2 linked regions of the Homo sapiens genome follow. The protein of the gene in region 1 purifies or fractionates together with the protein of each later gene. This does not show direct contact. Each region holds a gene or a part of one and is shown in the gene's direction. Other genes may lie near its edges.

The links. The genes of interacting proteins can lie anywhere in the genome.
Region 2: the proteins of SAMD9 (region 1) and METTL13 fractionate together in Homo sapiens (co-fractionation; one large-scale study listed by BioGRID). This does not show direct contact.

What each region holds. Positions count from the first base shown.
Region 1 is NC_000007.14:93,100,400-93,105,718, reverse strand, and holds part of SAMD9 (sterile alpha motif domain-containing protein 9), read left to right. Parts: coding exon 1-4,391; 3' UTR 4,392-5,319.
Region 2 is NC_000001.11:171,787,459-171,792,777, forward strand, and holds part of METTL13 (eEF1A lysine and N-terminal methyltransferase), read left to right. Parts: intron 1-276; coding exon 277-472; intron 473-2,993; coding exon 2,994-3,158; intron 3,159-4,558; coding exon 4,559-4,777; intron 4,778-5,319. UniProt on the Homo sapiens protein: Dual methyltransferase that catalyzes methylation of elongation factor 1-alpha (EEF1A1 and EEF1A2) at two different positions, and is therefore involved in the regulation of mRNA translation.

The sequences.
Region 1 (5,319 bases):
CAATGAGTACAACTGCTAAAGGTTCTAAGTCACTAAAAGTTGAGCTCATAGAAGATAAAATAGATTATACAAAGGAAAGGCAACCATCCATAGACCTGACATGTGTATCATATCCATTTGATGAATTCAGTAATCCATATCGTTACAAGTTGGATTTTAGTCTACAGCCTGAAACAGGACCAGGCAATCTCATTGATCCGATACATGAATTCAAAGCCTTCACAAATACAGCAACAGCCACAGAAGAGGATGTCAAGATGAAATTTAGCAATGAGGTTTTCCGATTTGCTTCAGCTTGTATGAATTCACGTACCAATGGCACTATTCATTTTGGAGTCAAAGACAAACCCCATGGGAAAATTGTTGGCATCAAAGTCACCAATGATACCAAGGAAGCCCTCATTAACCATTTCAATCTGATGATAAACAAGTATTTTGAAGACCATCAAGTCCAACAAGCAAAGAAGTGCATTCGAGAGCCAAGATTTGTGGAAGTTTTACTGCCAAATAGTACTCTATCTGACAGATTTGTTATTGAAGTGGACATTATTCCACAGTTCTCTGAATGCCAATATGATTATTTCCAGATTAAAATGCAAAATTACAACAACAAAATATGGGAACAAAGTAAAAAATTCTCACTATTTGTGCGAGATGGGACCAGCTCTAAGGACATTACGAAAAATAAAGTTGATTTCAGAGCATTTAAAGCAGATTTTAAAACACTGGCAGAGTCCAGAAAAGCAGCAGAAGAAAAATTCAGAGCAAAAACAAATAAAAAAGAAAGAGAGGGACCAAAGTTGGTTAAATTATTGACAGGAAATCAAGATTTGTTAGATAATTCATACTATGAACAGTACATTCTTGTAACAAATAAATGCCACCCAGATCAAACAAAACACTTAGATTTCCTGAAGGAAATTAAATGGTTTGCTGTATTGGAGTTTGATCCTGAGTCTAACATCAATGGAGTGGTCAAAGCTTACAAAGAAAGCCGAGTAGCAAACCTTCACTTTCCAAGTGTATATGTAGAACAGAAAACCACACCAAATGAGACGATTTCTACTCTAAATCTTTACCATCAACCCAGCTGGATTTTCTGCAATGGCAGGTTAGACCTTGACAGTGAAAAATATAAACCCTTTGATCCAAGTTCCTGGCAAAGAGAAAGAGCTTCTGATGTCAGGAAACTGATTTCATTTCTTACACATGAAGACATAATGCCAAGAGGGAAGTTTTTGGTGGTATTTCTATTACTGTCCTCTGTGGATGACCCAAGAGATCCCCTCATTGAGACTTTCTGTGCTTTCTACCAGGATCTCAAAGGAATGGAAAATATACTGTGTATTTGTGTGCACCCACACATATTTCAGGGATGGAAAGATCTACTTGAAGCAAGATTAATAAAACACCAAGATGAAATTTCAAGCCAATGTATTTCTGCTTTAAGCCTTGAAGAGATCAATGGCACTATTCTTAAACTAAAATCTGTGACTCAATCTTCAAAAAGGCTTTTGCCATCTATTGGTTTATCGACTGTCCTTCTGAAAAAGGAAGAAGATATCATGACTGCTCTGGAAATTATCTGTGAAAATGAATGTGAGGGTACACTGTTAGAGAAGGACAAAAATAAATTCCTTGAATTCAAGGCATCAAAAGAGGAAGACTTCTATCGAGGTGGCAAAGTGTCATGGTGGAACTTCTACTTCTCTTCTGAAAGTTATTCTTCACCTTTTGTCAAAAGGGATAAATATGAAAGACTTGAAGCAATGATTCAAAACTGTGCAGATTCTTCTAAACCAACAAGTACCAAAATTATTCATCTGTATCATCATCCAGGCTGTGGGGGAACTACCTTGGCTATGCACATTCTCTGGGAACTAAGGAAGAAATTCAGATGTGCTGTGCTGAAAAACAAGACAGTGGATTTTTCTGAAATTGGAGAACAGGTAACCAGTTTAATCACCTATGGGGCAATGAACCGTCAGGAATACGTACCTGTACTACTCCTTGTTGATGATTTTGAAGAACAAGATAATGTCTATCTTCTGCAGTACTCTATTCAAACAGCTATAGCTAAAAAGTACATTCGATATGAAAAACCTCTGGTGATTATCCTAAATTGTATGAGATCACAAAATCCTGAAAAAAGTGCAAGGATCCCAGACAGTATTGCCGTAATACAGCAACTCTCTCCCAAAGAACAGAGAGCTTTTGAGCTTAAATTGAAAGAAATCAAAGAACAGCATAAAAACTTTGAGGATTTTTATTCCTTTATGATCATGAAAACCAATTTTAATAAAGAATACATAGAAAATGTGGTCCGGAATATCCTGAAAGGGCAGAATATTTTCACCAAGGAAGCAAAGCTCTTTTCTTTTCTGGCTCTTCTTAATTCATATGTGCCTGATACCACCATTTCACTATCACAGTGTGAAAAATTCTTAGGAATTGGAAACAAGAAGGCTTTCTGGGGGACAGAAAAATTTGAAGACAAGATGGGCACCTACTCTACAATTCTGATAAAAACAGAGGTCATCGAATGTGGGAACTACTGTGGAGTACGCATCATTCACTCTTTGATTGCAGAGTTCTCACTGGAAGAATTGAAGAAAAGCTATCACCTGAATAAAAGTCAAATTATGTTGGATATGCTAACTGAGAATTTGTTCTTCGATACTGGTATGGGAAAAAGTAAATTTTTGCAAGATATGCACACACTCCTACTCACAAGACACCGCGATGAACATGAAGGTGAAACAGGAAATTGGTTTTCCCCATTTATTGAAGCATTACATAAAGATGAAGGAAATGAAGCAGTTGAAGCTGTATTGCTTGAAAGTATCCATCGGTTCAACCCAAATGCATTCATTTGCCAAGCGTTGGCAAGACATTTCTACATTAAAAAGAAGGACTTTGGCAATGCTCTAAACTGGGCAAAACAAGCAAAAATCATAGAACCTGACAATTCTTATATCTCAGATACACTGGGTCAAGTCTACAAAAGTAAAATAAGATGGTGGATAGAGGAAAACGGAGGAAACGGGAACATTTCAGTTGATGATCTAATTGCTCTTTTGGATTTAGCAGAACATGCCTCAAGTGCATTCAAAGAATCTCAACAGCAAAGTGAAGATAGAGAGTATGAAGTGAAGGAAAGATTGTATCCGAAGTCAAAAAGGCGGTATGATACTTACAATATAGCTGGTTATCAAGGAGAGATAGAAGTTGGGCTTTACACAATCCAAATTCTCCAGCTCATTCCTTTTTTTGATAATAAAAATGAGCTATCTAAAAGATATATGGTCAATTTTGTATCAGGAAGTAGTGATATTCCAGGGGATCCAAACAATGAATATAAATTAGCCCTCAAAAACTATATTCCTTATTTAACTAAATTGAAATTTTCTTTGAAAAAGTCCTTTGATTTTTTTGATGAATACTTTGTCCTGCTAAAACCCAGGAACAATATTAAGCAAAATGAAGAGGCCAAAACTCGGAGAAAGGTGGCTGGATATTTTAAGAAATATGTAGATATATTTTGTCTCTTAGAAGAATCACAAAACAACACAGGTCTTGGATCAAAGTTCAGTGAGCCACTTCAAGTAGAGAGATGCAGGAGAAACCTAGTAGCTTTAAAAGCAGACAAGTTTTCTGGGCTCTTGGAATATCTTATCAAAAGTCAAGAGGATGCTATAAGCACTATGAAATGTATAGTGAACGAATATACTTTTCTCTTAGAACAATGCACTGTCAAAATCCAGTCAAAAGAAAAGCTAAATTTCATCTTGGCCAACATTATTCTCTCCTGTATCCAACCTACCTCCAGATTAGTAAAGCCAGTTGAAAAACTAAAAGATCAGCTTCGAGAAGTCTTGCAACCAATAGGACTGACTTATCAGTTTTCAGAACCGTATTTTCTAGCTTCCCTCTTATTCTGGCCAGAAAATCAACAACTAGATCAACATTCTGAACAAATGAAAGAGTATGCTCAAGCACTAAAAAATTCTTTCAAGGGGCAATATAAACATATGCATCGTACAAAGCAACCAATTGCATATTTCTTTCTTGGAAAAGGTAAAAGACTGGAAAGACTTGTTCACAAAGGAAAAATTGACCAGTGCTTTAAGAAGACACCAGATATTAATTCCTTGTGGCAGAGTGGAGATGTGTGGAAGGAGGAAAAAGTCCAAGAACTTTTGCTTCGTTTACAAGGTCGAGCTGAAAACAATTGTTTATATATAGAATATGGAATCAATGAAAAAATCACAATACCCATCACTCCCGCTTTTTTAGGTCAACTTAGAAGTGGCAGAAGCATAGAGAAGGTGTCTTTTTACCTGGGATTTTCCATTGGAGGCCCACTTGCTTATGACATTGAAATTGTTTAAGAGCCTGATATTCTTCCTCCAAGAATTTGATCTCAGTACCCATTTAATTTTTTTGGACTCAAGATCTATGCTTTAAACCGGCAAGGTTATAGATACAGCCTCTAGCTCTTCAGATCTGTACATGCAGTATTTAATTTCCTCTTAAACATGTTATGAGTTCTACAAAGACAATAGTGAAAAAGGAAGGAGTGAGATATATGAAAAGTAGCAAATATGTTCCTTGGTTTGGTTAACATCATTGATGACAAAATAATAAGGAGCTATGACTGGAGTCAGGAGAAGTTAGTGTAATAAGCTGGCTACACAGAACCCCACTACTTACCAGGCATGGATTGAAGAAGATTGTCTACTCAAATGGCATTTAGACATTAGAATGTCTGGGAAAATATTTCTCAAAGACAGCAAAAACCTCTCAAACTGAGGAGCAACATTTATTCTTACTAAGCAGATCATCAATGTATCATGTGCTTGGCACTCAAGGATCTTCCAAAACAGAGGACCAACCAGTCTTCTGAAGGTCATGCCCACAGAAGTCATCAGACCTTACCAAAGTAGGTTGGAGAATTAGATTGCCTTTTCATGCAGTGAGATTCAGTTAAGCAAAAATGAAATTTGTCTCTATAGCTAATTAGCTTATCAACTCCCCTCCAAACAAACAATTAAAAAAAAAACATACAGACACTCAAATTCCACAAGCTAATGAACAAAAGGGACTCTTGTGAGAAGACTAATGAGTCCCTCATCCAGAAGATGCCAATGTACTGGCAGATTAACATACAACCTATGTTTTGAACAAAAACAACCAGCGATACGTAATCAAAATGTAATTTTCCCCTAATAAAATTATGGATATGGGCAGTCATCAATGGCTGCCAAAACCATTAAGTGGAAAGCTGATTAAAAAACAAAAATTTCTAATGGATTTATC
Region 2 (5,319 bases), on another chromosome or scaffold:
AAAAACCCCTAAAAGAACTTGGGGAGAATCAGCTGCATCTCACTAGTTGTTTGGGAGATCTTTATGTGTCCAGTTGATTTTCAAAAGATGAATTAAACCTTTGAGATCAGTTCAAAGGCTCCAGAAAAGTACTTTAATAGAATGGCAAATCTGTGGAGTAGTTGTTGTCTAGAACCGTGGTATGGGGATATATACACACAAAAGGGAAGGGGTTATAATTTCTCTTATTTCTTAAATGAGCTGCTGTTTTGACCACATCTCTGGTTGTACCTTCAGGTCCCCTTTCTGTCTGTGGGTGGGGACATTGGGGTCCGGACCGTTCAGCACCAAGACTGCAGCCCCTTGAGCGGTGACTATGTCATTGAGGATGTGCAAGGGGATGACAAGCGATACTTCCGTCGACTGATCTTCCTCAGCAACAGGAATGTGGTGCAGTCCGAAGCCAGGTTGCTGAAGGATGTGTCTCACAAAGGTGAGGTGTCATAGGCACAGTGGTGGGACCCAAGTGGCCGTGGCATGGACTAGATTTCTTGGGAGCTTGGCCGAGATGTAGGATGGACCTGGGTGTCTGTAGGTTCTTAACCATCTGGACTCTTAGGGTGTGAATAGCTATAAGCAGAGTACATTCTGTTCTTGAGCAGAGCCTGGCTCTGAAGTGATAGGGGACGTGAGTAGTGAAACCAAATACAGTGATAATCACATTAATGTCTTCGGTTTAAAGGCATCTGTTTTGCAGGTGCTCCATATACATCTGTGTATTGTTTCAATAGGCCTCTGTGAGGTGAGCCAGAACTATGGAAGTTGCAGGTGAGCCCTGCCCTCCATAGTGTGACTCACCTGTTTCAGAGGGTTTTGGATTGGCGGGTGACTTAGAGGCCTTCTAGTATACCACTGTTCAGTAAAACTGCCTGTGATGAAGGAGATGTTTAGTTCCTGAGTTTCTAATGTGGTCGCGACTAGCCATATGTAGTGCTGAGCGTTTGGAATGTGGCTAGTGTAACTGAGGAACTGAATTTTAATTTTCTTTAATTCTAATTAATTTACATTTATATTTCAACAGCCATAGGGGGCTAGTGGCTAGTATTGGACAGTGTAGATCTAAACCATCTCTTCTAGGATCCCTTTAAGTGGTCTCCCAGCTGTCACTCAGAAACTCCCCCGATGGGGAATCAATAGTTTGTTTTACCTGTGTTAGTTTGTATTTTAAAAGTGATACTTGTTCATTGAAATCACTTCAAAAGTCAAATATAGACCGCGAAAAGTGAATGCCCCTCACCTCTCCGTCTCCAGTGCATCTTCCCTGTCTGAGGCGCAGAGATTCAAGGATGGAAGCTGAAATGGCTCTCCTGATTCCCAGTTGTTCCCTTTGCCTGACTGGCCTGCCCTCATAGCAAGGCCATCTGGGAGGAGGGTGGAGACAGAGAATTCAGATGCTTGAGGTCATAGACTGGCTCTGAGCCTAGAATCAAGTTACCCAGCGAAATGGTATTTTTCTTTAGGGGTTTTCCCTGGCCAAGAGCACCCAAGATTGTTGGGTTTCTGCCCTATTGTTTGGTCACTGTGGCTGCAGGTTGGTCCAGTTTCATCTCACTAAAATCTCAGTAAAATTGCTTAAAAGAACATTTTGCCCCTTTCAGTTTGGGTTTCAGGTTTTTTCACCATTGTCATGTTCCTTGATTTCTTGGTAGCACTTTGTTCTCATGGAAAGAACGTTCTCCCTCATGGGAGTATTGGTGAGCAAGAAGGAGAGCATATTAAAAAGTGATTTAATATATCTGAAAAGCACCCCGACTCCACTCATCAGCACTTTTTACTGCTGGGGAATGCAGCTGATCCCTATGAAGACACAGCCATCCGTTTAGTATGATACCCTGGAGCAGGGAAGGGAGTGGTGAGAGGGAAAGTGGAGTGGCTTTTTAGGATTTATTTCCTTTTTTGAATACTTGTGATTTCCTTCTTCAGCAAAGGTTGGTAGTGCTACCTGTGTGGCATAGCAGAAAGATGATAGGTGATGGAGACAGGCAGTCCGAGGATCAACTCCTATCTCTACCATCTGCTGATTCCCTATTTACTTAACACTTCAGTGGCTTAGTGTGTTCATGTGCCAAGAATTGGAATGATAAGGTTGTTAGAAGAGCTAAAAAAATAAAAGTTACGGTATAGTAATTGGCACATAGCAGGTGATTAGTAACTTTACCTTTCTTTAAAAGACTTTATGAGTAATCTTTTCTCCTGTTAGTGGCCTTACATTTCTTAGACGGGAGGTACCAGGGCTCCTCAGTTGAGTTTTCCCAGGTTTTTGAGTGTGCATTTGCCATTTCCTTTTCCAGCTTCCTTGTATCCATTGTATATGTTAAATGTTTAATGACTATGTCTTTGTGGGGCGGGGTAGGGGGGGCACATCCTAATTTATAGTGTTTATCAGTTCTCTAGTATAAATACCACCACTGTATTTGTTTGTTTTACGTTGCTTATAAAGGAATACCTGAGACTGGATAATTTGTAAAGAAAAGACTTTTATTTTGGCTTATGGTTCTGCAGACTGTACAAGAAGCATGGTACCAACTTCTGCATTTGGTGAGGCTTCAGGAAGCTTACAATTATCACAGAAGGTGAAGGGAGACCAGGTACATCACATAGCAAGAGAGGGAGCAAAAGAGATGCCAGGCTTTTTTCAACAACAGCTCTAGAGTGAGAACTCACTCAATACCATGGGGAAGGCACCCAGCCATTCATGAGGGATCTGCCCCCGTGACCAGCATGGTGGCTCCGACATTGGGGATCACATTTCAACGTGAGATTTGTAGGGGACAAACATCCAGATGATTTCACTACGGCCAGTTTCAAGCTATCAACATGATGTCAACCAGTTTGCAAAATTTTAACGATTGGGTCTTTTGAGTGTTCAAGCCATCTGGAGCACACTGCTGCCAGTAACCCTTGCTTCCTGAGGACTAGTGTACTAAGCATAGGGCTTCATATCTCTTGTTTAGCCCAGAAGAAGCGGAAAAAGGACAGGAAGAAGCAGCGGCCTGCTGATGCGGAGGACCTCCCTGCAGCCCCGGGGCAGTCCATTGATAAGAGTTACCTGTGTTGTGAACACCACAAAGCCATGATCGCTGGCCTTGCCCTGCTGAGAAACCCAGAGCTACTCCTAGGTGAGAGAGATGCCACTGCCTTCCACAGAAGGGAGCATAAAGATTACAGACCTAAACAATTGGTGTCACTTGCATTGTAGTTGAAGAACAGCAATTACAAGCTGACAATGTATCTTTCTTCATCTCAACCATGTTATAAGTTAATGAGCATTCTAATTAACTGTTGCCTCAAACTCAACCTGTTATATTGAAATTGTATTGAAATATGTTAGAGTCTAAGTGGTATTTTTTCTGTTCATTTCTTTTTAAAATTAAGGTATATCATGTATTCAATGAGATATGTAAAAATACACAGATTTTAATTGTTCAGCTTTTCTGTAATGCATTATTTGAACAAAAGATGCAATTCTATCTTGAATTTCTACTTTCTGAAAAGATTCATATTATAGTTAATGCAGTCATAGCCTTATCGCTAATAGCAGGTTTGGATCTGACTGCATTAGTGAAATTGTTCATGTTTTGTCTGTGATTGTAACCGTTTTCACCTGAAGTCCCTGAATGTGCCTTCTTGGAATACCCTATACTTTTGTCCTATCTTAGTGTTGATGTATGTCACTAGAATCTCAGTTCTTAGATTTAATTCTCAGGGTCTGTCTCCTTCGGGTGACTTTTGTTGTCTTCCTTTGATCCCCCTGTGGTGGCTGTGCTCTGTGCTTAGGAGTAGGAGTTGGGCCTTTGTTTTCCTGTGATTTGTGGAACTTGAATGGCTTACCCTTACTTGGTGAGGGTGTCTGAGAAGACGGTGTGGCCTTTTGAGTCAAGGGCAAGGGACATTGCACCTCTGCTGCCTTGTAATCATGAGCAAGATTGTTTGGCCACTCTTCTTCCCTTTCCTAGAGAGGGTCTAATAATTCTTATAGTGAAGAAGTCTTTTTTTTTGAGACAGGGATTTACTCTTGCCCAGGCTGGAGTGCAGTGGTATGATCGCAGCTTACTGCAGCCTTGACCTCCTTAGGCTCCCACGTCAGCTTACCGTGTAGCTGGTACCACAGGTGTGTGTCACCATGCCCAGTTAATTTTTCTACTTTCTATAGACAGGATTTTGCCATGTTGCCCAGGCTGGTCTCGAACTCCTGAGCTCAAGTAATCTGCCCACCTCGGCCTCCCAAAGTGCTGGGATTACAGGTGTGAGCCACTGCCCCTGGCCACTTTGAGATCTTTAAGAGACAATAATAATAACACACTAGTTCATCTTCTGGATCTAGTCATCATGAATCCAGGATTCAGTTATCAGATGTCAAATTCACTCCTAGATTTCTGAAATGAGACAGGGAGACCTCTAAATCTTGTATCCCCTGAATGGAGACAGTGAGCTGACTTTCCCTTTTGCCTTCCCTGAGGCTGGTACAGAATTTTCCAGTGAACAGGTGGCAATGTGATGCTCTATTCTTTTCTTACAGAGATCCCACTGGCATTGTTGGTGGTAGGCCTGGGCGGGGGCAGCCTCCCCCTCTTTGTCCACGATCATTTTCCAAAGTCCTGCATTGATGCTGTGGAGATCGATCCCTCCATGTTGGAAGTGGCCACCCAGTGGTTTGGCTTCTCCCAGAGTGACCGAATGAAGGTCCACATTGCAGATGGCCTGGACTATATCGCCAGCTTGGCAGGAGGAGGAGAAGGTACTGCTCTTGGAGCATTTGAAGGGGTGTTGAGGGATGATTGATGCGACATTGTCAGGCCCGCAAGGGCCTCTACAGTTTATCTCTAAGAGAGTGGCATGAGTATCGTTCCAGTCTTCAGCCTGTTCATTTGTTGATATACTTATTCACTAGAGTACCAGCTATATGCTTAGCACTGTGTTAGGTGTGAATGTAAAGCAATAAGTAAAACAGGCCATTCCTGCCCTTATGGTGCTAACAGACCAGTGGGCTTTTTTCTGACCTGTAACCTTGTCATTTCCTCACCATCTTAAGAAACCTGAAGTCTAACTGGGCAAAGAAACAGAGAAGAAAAGGTGGAATGTGTGTTGGGAGGTATTTTTGTAAATATTTCAACTGGAGGTAAAGCCAGAAATAGAGCAAAACAGTATTCATGTAAGATCAGTGGTATACAACCTCAGGGTCTGACATTTGGTAATGTATGGAGACAATTTTTCATTGTCACAAATCGGGGTGGGGGATGTTGCTACTGACATCTAAACGGTAGAGGTCTAGGATGCTAG